Linked DNA regions of Homo sapiens: regions 2 and 3 are each linked to region 1. Evidence: fine-mapped expression QTL. A gene starts in region 1. Each other region holds a variant in brackets. All regions are shown on one strand. Distances are from middle to middle.

What was found. PIP is the estimated chance that this variant, and not a neighbour inherited with it, causes the effect.
Region 2: its variant is the best candidate, but not a certain one, in a credible set for the expression of TRAF5 in whole blood (TOPMed, PIP 0.76).
Region 3: its variant is the best candidate, but not a certain one, in a credible set for the expression of TRAF5 in whole blood (INTERVAL, PIP 0.67).

Annotation. Positions count from the first base shown.
Region 1 is chr1:211,324,807-211,329,157 of GRCh38, forward strand. It overlaps TRAF5 (TNF receptor associated factor 5), which reads left to right and starts at 2,027. Exons shown (of 11, transcript NM_001033910.3): 1 at 2,027-2,083. RefSeq lists enhancers at 731-1,232, 1,502-1,891 and a silencer at 1,952-2,321.
Region 2 is chr1:211,282,073-211,286,072 of GRCh38, forward strand. The region is part of intron 7 of RCOR3 (REST corepressor 3); the gene reads left to right. Among named protein-coding and RNA genes, the nearest start is that of RCOR3, 25 kb to the left of the region's middle. The variant T/C (reference allele first, on the strand shown) is at 1,669.
Region 3 is chr1:211,448,879-211,453,229 of GRCh38, forward strand. No RefSeq gene overlaps it. Among named protein-coding and RNA genes, the nearest start is that of RD3, 41 kb to the right of the region's middle. The variant CA/C (reference allele first, on the strand shown) is at 1,941.

The DNA.
Region 1 (4,351 bases):
GAGAAGCAAATTACAGTCAATGACAGGACCAGGGATTCTGAGCATACCTGCATGTATGCATACTAGACACTGATGTTCCAGCCAGTGAAAGGAGATATAACTTCTAAAAAACAGTATCAACTTTATTATGCTTGGAAGTAATGAGAAGAGAGGCAAGAAGCAGGCAATGGTAAGAGAAAGCGGGTGGGACGTAGTGGCTTGCACATTTAATCCCAGCACTTTGGGAGGTCGAGGTGGGAGGATCGCTTAAACCCAGGAGTTTGAGACCAGCCTGGGCAACATAGTAAGTCTCCATCTCTTCAAAAAAAAAAAAAAAAAAAAAGGAGCTGGGGGAGGTGGGCGTAGTGGTGTGTGCCTGTAGTCCCAGCTACTCTGGGGGCTGAAGCGGCAGAATTACTTGAGCCCAGGAGATCCAGCCTGCAGTGAGCTGTGATCATGCCCCTGCACTCCAGCCTGGGTGACAGAGTGAGAACCTCTCTCAAAAAATACACACCCACAAAAAGAGAGGGAAAGTATAGTGTATGGCAGAACAGGAAGGAGAACTTGGGTTCACTAAGCACCTACTCTGTGTTAGGCGTACAGGAGTGCCATCTCATTTAATTCTCATGAGAAGATTATGAGACAGATCTACAGTCCCAAAGCAACACCCACCAGTGCCTCTCCCCCACGGAGCGGTTCATCTAACTCACCAACCAAAAAAGGTTTGGATCTGGATTTCTGGCTCTTTGGAGAAATAAGAGATCAGGTAACAATAGGCTGGCACTGGGTGGTGGCTGCTCCACTAGATCCTCCACCTGCTCTTTAGTGCACCAGCGCCTCCCTCCTTTCTCCATGACCACAACCTCTGCCTCCCTCCTGTATGTTTCCTGCCGAGCTCCTGTGCACATCTGAGTTTTTGACTCCCAAGGTGTGTATTATTCTCCCCTTTTATTGACGAGGACGGTAACTGAAACTCAGAGCAGTTAAGTACTTTTCCCACGGTGGCCTAACTGAAAGTAAAGGATCTAGATAGAATTGGAATTTTGGTCCATTTCATTTATATAGAATGTATTGCCCTTGGAGAGAATATATTGTAAGAAAGAGCCCGTATCTAAGAGTGCGCAGGCCAAGCGCGGTGGCTCACGCCTGTTGGGAGGGCAAGGCAGGCGGATCACAAGGTCAAGAGATGAGACCAGCCTGACCAACATGGTGAAACCCCGTCTCTACTAAAAGTACAAAAATTAGCCCGGCGTGGTGGCACATGCTTGTAATCCCAGCTACTCGGGAGGCTGAGGCAGGAGAATTGCTTGAACCTGGGAGGCCAGGGTTGCAGTGAGCCGAGATCGCGTCACCGCACTCCAGCCTGGCGTGAGAGCGAGACTCCGTCTCAAAAAATAAAATAAAATAAAAAATACGTATAGAGAGAGAGAGAGGGAGAGAGACAGGCAGACAGCAGACCTGGATTCAAGTTCCAGCTGCAGAGCTTGCTGAGCGTGTCTAACCTTGGGTACGTCACTCCACGTTGCTGCTCTGGCCCTCAGACAGCTCATCTGTAAAATGGGGATGACCAGGCCTACTTCACCAGCTTGTTTTGAGGACCACAGGAGATGTTTGGGAAGCCAACCGGGGAGCTCTACAACTCTCAGAGATTGCTGGTGTTAGGCCAACAGCAAGAGGAGGGCTGGCAAATTTGTGCTACCCTGAAGGAAAGTCCAGGAAGGACTGATTTGAGCCAGATCTCAAGCAAGGCCTTGAGCAAATGGGTCAACACAGGAGAGGACGGGCTGAGCCTTGTTGTGCCTGACGGAAGAGCAAGACGGCCACAATTCAGACGCACGTGAGGGAAATCAGATGACTGGACTTGTAGATACTAACGGTTCTGAAGCGGGTAGGTTAGCTTTCCAACCGCCTGGATGACGGTCTCAGCCTCCTCCCGACCCCTTCCTGCGCGTCCGCTCTTCCCCTGCGCCCGCCCGCGCCCCTCCGCCCGCGCCCCGGCCCCGCCCCAGGCCTCGCCTCCGCTTCGCCGCCGCCGCCGGCCGCAGCCAGGAGCAGCAGCCGCGCCTGCAGACCGGCCTCGCGGAGCCCGCGCGCCGAGCCCCACGTGAGTCCGGCGGGTCGCCGCCCTGGGCACCCTCGCGACGGAAGGGCCGGGGTGGGGACACCGACGAGCGCTTTTCATCTCGTCCCAGTTACTTTGAAACCGAAAGCGCCTGCTGGCGTCCGGCCGGTCCCCGACCGGCGGGGAGGGCGCGAGGCGGCGGCTGGGCCGGGGGAGGCGGAGGGGCCCGGGCTTGCGGGAGACCGGCGGGGCAGGTGACCGCCGACGGCCCGGGGACAGCGGGAGCGGTGCGGAGCGGGTTTCTTAGCCGGGGAGAGGTGTGGCGAGGGCGGAGACTGGGGGTCCAAAGCTGGGGAGCTGGTCCAGAGGGCGGCTGTGGACCGGAGGGGCCAGGTTCCGTCGGGGTGCACTGGCGGGGAGGACTTTCAGGCACGTCCCGCACATCCGCACTGCAAACCAGGCCCTGGCCCCCTTCCGCACCCGAAGGCACCCTCTCCACCTTTGCAGGGCTTTCCAATCAAAGCAACTCCAGAATGAAACTTCAGGATTGCAAGGAATGGAAGCCTCTACCAGCTGTTCGTTTGCGCGTCTTCCTTTAGAAAGCAGCTACCCCCCTCCCCCAGAAGGCGAGCTCTAAGGAACCTTGACGCAAACCAAAGCTCCGAGAGGTGGAAGGAGTTGCCCAGAGGCACCCAGAGAATTCGCAGATTCTGAGTTCTCCGTACCAGATGGTCTCCACTTTGTTCCTGTTCTGCAGGGTCTTGGTGGTTCTGAGAATTTTCGGGGCCACGCTCTTGCTGCGGGTCCCACTGGGCCACTCTGGCTGGCCGACTTTCTCTGCTCATTCGGCCTCCTTCTGCTAAGTTTCCATATTTGGGTATTTCAGATTTACTTTCATGAGAACTCAGTTATCTCGCTGTGGCAGGCAGAGCTGCCTCAGGCGAGCATTGAGGTTGGTGAAACCAGGCGAGGCTCCCTGCCAGGGCTGCCCCTGCAGCCCCCACCCTCCATAGCCTTGGGCTCTGACCCACCTCCTGTGAGGATAGGCATCTGGTAACCAGTTTAATTCTGTAAATATTTATTGGGCAGGTGCTGTGTGAGAACTGGGCTGGGGCCAGTGGAATATGGTTATTTCCTCCAGAGATACTTGCATTTTAAAAGGGCTCTGGAAGACCTGAGATGCAAAGAAATTAGTTGAACCATTTCTGGAAATAGAACAGTTTTGGGTGTGTGCGAGATAATTTTAGGCAGCAAAAGGCTGGGCTAGGAACTCTCAAATCCCAGTGCAGCTGCTCTGCCTTATGTACTCACAAAGCTGAAAACAGGGGTGTTAATGTAATTGATGGTTTGGGTGGAAACACTTCCATCCCTAACTCTAATTTGAACTAGAAAGACAGAAATTGCTGCAGGAACGATGGATGTAAGATGGAAGTGGAAAACGCCTAGCTTCTGTAAAGGTTTTTGATTTTGTTACAGTTACTGTTTTTGTTGTAACTCTATGGAATGGATCACCTCTCAGATCCCTGGCTCCTGGACAGAGGCAGGAGAAAGTGTCTGAGCCAGCATCTGGAACATGGGAAGTGATGGAGAAGGCGACTTCTCCCACGGCCTCTGGGCTGAGAGGCCTGTTGTGACGGGCAGGGTAGGATGGTGGTATTTCCCTCTGTCAGCAGCAAGCCCGCTGGACTTGGGTAGTAGGGCGATGGAAAGAGTGTGGAAAAGAGCTGCCGTCCACTGAACGTCCTGACGATAGGGACTGGGATGTTTCAGTGGGGATGATTTGCACAGTCGGGGAGCTAGATGCCTCAGAGTCAGTCTTGTTAGGCTTGCAGTGGGAAAGGCACCTCAGTACTTAGACAAACCTCCTCTGATTAGCTCAGCTTTACTGGGGAGGACCTTGAAGGAAAAATAATTATTTGTTTGTAAAGCTCGTTCCTTTGCAAAGCATTTTCTCTTTGTTCTTGTCGTTTTGTTCTCATTTCGTCCTCCATGACGCCCTCATGAGTTAGAGCAGGCTTATTCTCTACATCTCTCAGATTGTGAGGGTGAAGCACTGAGGCGGTAAATAGCTCCCTGAGCTCCACTGCTGGACCAGGATCAGAGCATTGAGGTGTCTTGTTCCCCTGCTCCAGGCCCCTCACCCTGGCTTCTCAGAGAGCCATATCTGCCCACCTCTTCCTCCGTCTGAGGGGTCAGCAAGGGGACCCAGATTCTGATAATGCCTCTGTGGTCTGTCCCCAGCAACATGGAGCAAGTTCTGCTGGAGACTCTGGCCTAACCACCACAAGAACAGACATCCACTCTGTTAGC
Region 2 (4,000 bases), 43 kb before region 1:
ATATGTATGTATATATATGGAATATATAGTTTTGCCCAACTATGCAAGATGATGCATACTCATTTGGTCTTTTGTTTGCTTATGATCTCATCTTACCAGAAAATAATATGAGGGGAGTATAAGTTAAAAAGTTTTAAGAGGATACTGCAGAGGTGTGGTCCAAGACTAGCACTATGTGTCAGCAGCTTCATTCATTTCTCTGCTCATTCCAAACAATAAGGATACCAGGCAGGGAAAGAAACTACATTATTGCTTTTAATATAGATCTTTGTAGCTGCTTCTGCATGTTGTTAACATATTACATAGAAAGTTTTAATTTTAACTTTTAAAAGTTGTGAACTATTTAAAGAAAAATAATAGATACCAGTGTATCTACCACTGAGCTGAAGAAACAGAAGTCCTGTTTGTGTTTCCTCAATTGGATATTCTTGTTTTTTTTTTTTTTTTGAGAGGGAGTCTCACTCTGTCGCCCAGGCTGGAGTGCAGTGGCACGATCTCGGCTCACTGCAACCTCCACCTGGGCTCAAGCAATTCTCCTGCCTCAGCCTCCCGAGTAGCTGGGACTACAGGCATGCGTCACCATGCCTGGCTAATTTTTGTATTTTTAGTAGAAATGGGGTTTCGCCATGTTGGCTAGGCTGGTCTAGAACTCCTGACCTCAGGTGATCCACCTGCCTCAGCTTCCCAGAGTGCTGGGATTACAGGCGTGAGCCACCGTGCCCGGCCTCAATTGCATAGTCTCACCTTCTCTCTAGAGGGAACCACTATAATGAAATTTCTAAATTATTCACTTCTTTCTTTATAGTTTTATCACATATATATAATCACATATGATGATATGATTATCATTTAGTTTCATTTATTTCATACTTTATTTAATTGGAATCATATTGTATGTATTCTTCAGTACTTGCCTTTTGTTATTATTTTTGCGATTCATTTTTATTGCTATATTATAGTGTTCCATTGTATACATATACTGCAACTTATTCACTCTCCAATTAATAAACTTAATTTCCAGCTTTTTATTACGGACACTGCTGATATGAACATGTTCTGGATACACATGTCTGAGAGTTCCTTTGGTACAATAGTTCTCAGCTAGGTTTAGCACTGACCCCATAGGGGACATTTAGAAATTATGGAGGTGTTTTCATTGTTAACAGTGATTGTGGGGCATTTCAGTTGTCGAGTGGGCAGGAGAAAGGGGTGACAACTATACTGAAGTGCAAAGCACAGATTGTTTCACCAAAATGCCAACAGTGATTTACTGAGTAACAGGGTCCCAGGATTCTTTGGAATGGAGTCACTCTATTTTAGGGAATAGCCACATTAAACTTTCCTAGGTAATGGCATAATTGTTTTCTATAGCTGATATACCTCCACTAGACTGTGAGAATACCCATTGTATACTTCCTTGCCAATGCTTGATCAGACTTTTAAAATGTTCCAAATCTGGCAATATGAGAAGGCATTTCATTGTGTCCTCAGTTTCATTCATCAGGTAACTACTGAGGCTGAATGTTTTTCTATCTGTTTATTAGCTGTTGTTATATGTTTCGTTCGTGGAGGTTTTTGTTTTGTTTTTTTAGAGACAGAATCTTGCTTATTGCCCAAGCTAGTGTGCAGTTGTGTGATCATAGCCACTGCAGCCTCAAACTTCTGGGC[T/C]CAAATGATCCGCCTGCTTCATGCTCCCAAGTAGCTGGGATTGCAGACGTGAGCCAGCATGCCTGGCTTGTATTTTTTTTTTTTTTCACCCATTTTTCCACTGCGTATTTGTCTTTTTCTTAAAGACTGAATATAAAAAGTTTTTTCTTATTGAATTCTTTGTATATTCTGGATACGAGTCCTTTGGTTAACAGCAAATATCTTTTGCCAGTTTGTGGTTTGTGTTTTTACTCTCTACAGGGAAGTAAACAGCTATTTCATCAAAAGCATATAAATTTTAAATTTATTATTTATTTATTTTATTTTATTTTATTTATTTATTTATTTTTTTGAGATGGAGTCTCGCTCTGTCGCCCAGGCTGGAGTGCAGTGGCGGGATCTCGGCTCGCTGCAAGCCCTACCTGCCGTGTTCACGCCATTCTCCTACCTCAGCCTCCTGAGTAACTGGGACTACAAGCGCCTGCCACCACGCCTGGCTAATTGTTTTTTTGTTTGTTTGTTTGTTTGTTTTTTGTATTTTTAGTAGAGACGGTGTTTCACTGTGTTAGTCAGGATGGTCTCGATCTCCTGACCTTGTGATGCATCCGCCTCAGCCTCCCAAAGTGCTGGGATTACAGGCGTGAGCCACTGTGCCCGGCCAATTTTAAATTTAAATTCCAGTATTCTTTTACATTTTCTTTTGAAAATTTTAAACTTTTTCTCTTTTTACATTGAAGTCCTTGCTGTAGCAGTAAATAAGTTCATGTTGTGAGGTAGAGATCCTTTATTTATTTATTTATTTATTTATGTATTTATTTAACAGTTGGGGGTCTTGTTTTGTCACCCAGGCTAGTGTGCCAGTGACACAATCATAGCTCACTTCTGGCACAAATTCCTGGGCTCAAGCCATCCTCTTGCCTCCTAAGTAGCTGGGACTACAGGCATGCACCACCACACCCAGCTAATTTTTTAAAAAACTTTTTGTAGAGATGGGGTCTTGCTACATTGTCCAGACTGGTCTTGAGCTTCTGGGCTCAAGTGATCCTCCCACCTTGGCCTCCCAAAGTGCTGGGATAACAGGTGTGAGCCCTACCATGCCTGGCTATTTATTTTTTAATACGGAATTGAATATCTTTTTCAACTGGTCTGCAATACCAGCTTTATTTTATATGAGGCTTACGCATATGCCTGGCTCTCTATTCTGCTTCTGTTGTCAGTTAAATATTCCTTGCTAATCCCACATTTTTTCAATTACTTATAATAAGCCTCATAAGTCTTGATAGTTGCTAGGGTAAGTTCTGCTATTTGGTGGTTCTTCTTAAGGAGTGTGTACCTTGGTTATTCTTGGACCTTTGCTCTTCATAACTTATTTGTATTACTTTTGATTTCCTATATAGTGATTTATATTACCTGAAAATAATAGCTATTTTGTTTCTTTTTAGTCCTTGTATCTTATTTCTTCTCTTGCTGAACTGGTTAGTATCACCAATATAATTTGAATAGAAGATATGATAGGGAACATTTTTCTGATCGTAAAGAGAATCGTTTTTGTTTCAACATCAAGTAGGTTGTTATTAAAGGTTTTTGACTCATTCACATTGCTGGTAGTTGATGCTAGCTGTAGGTTGGAGCAATTCCATTTGGCCTCTCCAATTTGGTGGTCTCTGAGTAATCTAACTTCTTGCCATAATGGCTGGTTTCCTCCAACGTAATCAATCCCGGAAGCACTAAGTGGAAACTACTCAGCTGTTTCTGGCCTAGCCTTGAAAGTTACTCAGAGTCACTTCTCTTGCATTCAGTGGTTATAAGTGAGTTACTAAAGTTGGTTCAGAATCAAGGGGAAGGAATATAGACCCCTGCTTCCCCATGGCAGGAATGTTGAGGAATTTGTTGACATGTTTTAAACCTCCAAGCCCAGAGTATGGAATTTTCATAAATGTTTTCCCATGTGTGCTTAGGGATATTATCTTGGTAACAAGGTTTTATATATGTCCATTAATTTAGGTTTGTCAGTTCTGTAGTTGAAATCCATATTCTTACTGCTTGCCTACTTGATAGCTTGGTTTTTGTTGTCTGCTTATGTGATCAATTATTCTGATCACTCAATTACTGAGAAGTAGTTTTTTATATGTTGAAGTTAGTGTTATTAGGTGCATACAAATTGTTTTATCTTGCTGCTGAATTGAGCCTTTTATCAATATGTAGGGTCTCTTTTATTGGCTTCTGCCTTGAAGATTATTTTATCTGTTATGTTGATAGCTCCACCATTTTTCTTCTGTTAAGTATTTGCCTGGTTTATCTTTATCATTTTACTTTCAACATTTCTGTGTCCTCACATGTTAAGTATGTGTCT
Region 3 (4,351 bases), 120 kb after region 1:
GGCCACAGGGATGCTTGTGTCACTCCATGCCCAGCTTTAGGTGGCTCAGAACAAAGAGAAATACTCTGGGATAAAGTAAAGGAAGAGAACAAGAGTCTCTCCTGGTAATCCAGAGAAGTCTCCCAGATCTTGTCCAAGACCATCATGAGTCTTCAAGAACCACAGCATTACTGGCCTTGGGGTGCTCCCTAAAGCAGATACAGCTTAGATCACAACACCTAGGTCCTTTCAAATATCTGGAACGCCTTCCCAAGAAGGATAGATACAAATAAGCCCAGGCAGTGAAGACTACAGTAAATAATTCTTCAATGCCCAGACACTGAAGAACATCTACTAGCATTATCACCATCTAGGAAAACATGACCTCACCAAATGAACTAAATAAGGTACCAGGTACCAATCCTGGAGAAAGAGATATGTGACCTTTCAGATGGATAATTTAAAATAGCTGTGTTGAGGAAACTCTAAGAAATTTAAGATAACAGAAGGAATTCAGAATTCTATCAGATAAATTTTAAAAAGAGACTAAAATAATTTTTTAAAATCAAGCAGAAATTCTTGAGCTGAAAAATGCAGTTGGCAGCCAAGCAAGATGGCTCACGCCTGTGATCCCAGCACTTTGGGAGGCCAAGGTGGGCAGATCACCTGAGGTCAGGAGTTCGAGACCAGCCTGGCCAAGATGGTGAAACCCCGTCTCTACTAAAAAACAAAAATTAGCTGGATGTGGTGGCAGGCACCTGTAATCCCAGCTACTTGGGAGGCTGAGGCAGGAGAATAGCTTGAACCCGGGAGACGGAGGTTGCAGTGAGCCAAGGTCACGCCATTGCACTCCTGCCTGGGTAACAACGGCGAAACTCTGGCTGAAAAAAAAAATGCAGTTGGCATACTGAAAAATTCATCAGAGCCCTTTAGCAGCATTGATCAAGCAGAAGAAAGAATTAGTGAGCTGGAAGACAGTTTATTTGAAAATACACAGAAGAGACAAAAGAAAAAATAAAAACGCACCTACAGGATCTAGCAAATAGCTTAAAAAGGGCAAATCTAAGTGTTATTGGCCTTAAAGAGGAAGTAGAGAAGAGATAGGGGTAGAAAGTTTATTCAAAAGGGATAATAACAGAGAACTCCCCAAACCTAGAGAAAGATATCAGTATCCAAGTACAAGAAGGTTATAGAACATCAAGCAGATTTAACCCAAAGAATGCCATCTCAAGGCATTTAATAATCAAACTCCCAAAGGTCAAAGATAAAGAAAGGACCCTAAAAGCATCAAGAGAAAAGAAACAGATAATATACATTGGAGTGCCAATACATTTAGCAGCAGATTTTTCAGTGGCCAGGAAAGAATGTCATGACATATTTGAAGTGATGAAGGAAAAAATCTTTTACCCTAGAATAGTATATTCAGCAAAAACATTCTTCAAGCATGAAGGAGAAATAAAGACTTTCCCAGACAAACAAAAGCTGAGGGATTTCATCAACACCACACCTGTTCTACAACAAATGCTAAAGGGAGTACTTCATTCAGGACATTAATGAGCAATAAGTGATCACCCAAAGGTACAAAACTCACTGTTAATAGTACACAGAATATTATTATGCTGTAACTGTGGTGTGTAAACTACTCATCCTAAGTAGAAAGACTAAATGATGAACCAGGCTGGGTGCAGTCGGTGGCTCACACCTGTAATCCCAGCACTTTGGAAGGCTGAGGTGGGTGGATCACTTGAGGTCGGGAGTTCAAGACCAGCCTGGCCAACATGGCAAAACCCCATCTCTATAAAAAATACAAAAGTTAGTTGGGCGTGGTGCCGGGCACCTGTAATTCCTGCTACTCAGAAAGATGAGGCAGGAGAATCACTTGAACATGGGAGGTGGAGGCTGCAGTGAGCAGAGATTGCACCACTGCACTCCAGCCTGGGCAACAGAGTGAGACCCATTCT[CA/C]AAAAAAAAAAAAAAAAAAAGATGAGCCAATCAAAAATAACTGCAACAACTTTTCAAGACATAGTTGGTAAAATAAGATAAAAATAGAGACAATAAAAAGTTAAAAAGCAAGGGGATGAAGTTAAGGCATAGAGTTTTTATTCACTTTCTTTTTGATTGTTTCTTTATGCAAACGGTGTTAACTTGTTATCAGGTTAAAATGATGGATCATAAGATAGTATCAGCAAGCCTCATGGTAACCTCAAACCAAAAAACATACAATAGAGACACAAAAAATAAAAAGCAAGAAACTAAATCATATCACCAAAGAAAATCATCATAACTAAAGGAAGACAAGAAGGAAAAAAGAAATATTGACTAGCCTTAAAAAGAGAAAAATAAAAAAGAAGGAAGAAAAAAACACAAAACAACCAGAAAACAAATAACAAAATGGCAGGAGTAAGTCCTTACTTATCAATAATAATATTAAATGTAAATGGACTAAACTCTCAAGTCAAAGGCGTAGAGTGGCAGAATAGATGAATAAACAAGACCCATTGATTTATTTCTATAAGAAACACACTTCACCTATAAAGACCCACATAAACTGAAAATAAAGGGATGGAAAAAGATATTCCATGCCAATGGAAACCAAAAAAGAGCAGGAGTTGGTATACTTACATCAAACAAATAAATTTCAAGACCAAAACTATAAGAAGAGGCAAAGAAAGTCTCTATATAATGATAAAGGGGTCAATTCAGCAAGAGAATATAACAATTTTAAATATATATGCACCCAACACTGGATCACCCACATATATAAAGCAAATATTATTGGAGCTAAAGAGAGAGATAGGCCTTGATATGATAATAGCTGGAGACTTCAGGACCCCACTTTCAGCATTGGACAGATCTTCCAGACAGAAAATCAACAAAGAAACATCAGACTTAATCTACACTGTAGACCAAATGGATCTAATAGATATTTACAGAACATTTCATCCAACAGCTGCAGAATACACATACTTTTCCTCAACACATGATTATTCTCAAGGATAGACCATATGTTAGGTTATGAAACAAGTCTTAAAACATTCAAAAAAATTTAAGCATCTTCTCTGACCACAATGGAATAAAACTAGAAATTAATAACATGAGGAATCTTGGAAACTATGCAAATATATGGAAATTAAACAATATCCTCCTGAATGACCAGTGGGTCAATGAAGAAATTTAGAAGGAAATTGAAAAGCTTCTTGAAACAAATGATTATGGAAACACACATACCAAAACATAGGATACAGCAAAAGCAGTACTAAGAGGGAATTTATAGCTACAAGTGCCTACATCAAAAAAGAGGAAGACTTTCTCTTTCTTTCTTTCTTTCTTTCTTTCTTTCTTTCTTTCTTTCTCTTTCTTTCTTTCTTTCTCTTTCTTTCTTTCTTTCTTTCTTTCCTTTCTTTTCTTCTTTTCTTTCTTTCTCTCTCTTTTTTTCCTTTCTTTTCTTCTTTTCTTTCTTTCTTTCTTTTCTTTTCTTTTTTTTTTTTGAGACAGAGTCTCACTCTGTCACCTGTCACCCAGGCTGGAGTGCAATGGCACAATCACAGCTCACTGCAGCTGAGACCTTCCAGGCTCAGGTGATCCTCCCACTTCAGGCCCCTCAAGGAGCTGGGACTACAGGTGTGTGCCATCACACCTGGCTAATTTTTTGTAGAGATAGGGCTTTGCCATGTTTCCAAGGCTGGTCTCAAACTCCTGAGCTCAAGTGACCTGCCCACCTCGGCCTCCCAAAGTGCTAGGATTACATGTGTGAGCCACCCAGCACTTTGGGAAAACTTCAAATAAACAATCTGGCAATGCATCTTAAAGAACCAGAAGGTGGCAGGGGGTGAGGGAGGCTAAGAAAATAAAAAAAGAACTAGAAGAGCAAGAGCAAACCAAACCTAAAATTAGTAGAAGAAAAGAAATAATAAAGATCAGAGCAGAAAGAAATAAAATTGCAATAAACCCAAAAGATCAATGAAACAAAATATTGTTGTTTTGAAAAGTTAAACCAGGCTGGGCACGGTGGCTCATGCCTGTAATCCCAGTACTTTGAGAGACCGAGGCGGGTGGATCACCTGAGGTCAGGAGTTTGAGACCAGCCTGGCCAACATGGTGAAACCCTGTCTCTACTAAAAATACAAAAAAAACTAGCTGGGCATGGTGTCAGGTGCCTGTAATCCCAGCTACTCAGGAGGCTGAGGCAGGAGAATCGTTTGAACCCAGGAAGCGGAAGTTGCAGTGAGCCGAGATCGAGACTTAGTCTCAGGAAAAAAAAAAAAGAAAAGTTAAACCAAATTGACAAACCTTTAACCAGATTACCTAAGAAGAAAGCAGAGAAGATACAAATAAAATCAGAAACAAAAAAGGAGACATTACAACTGATATT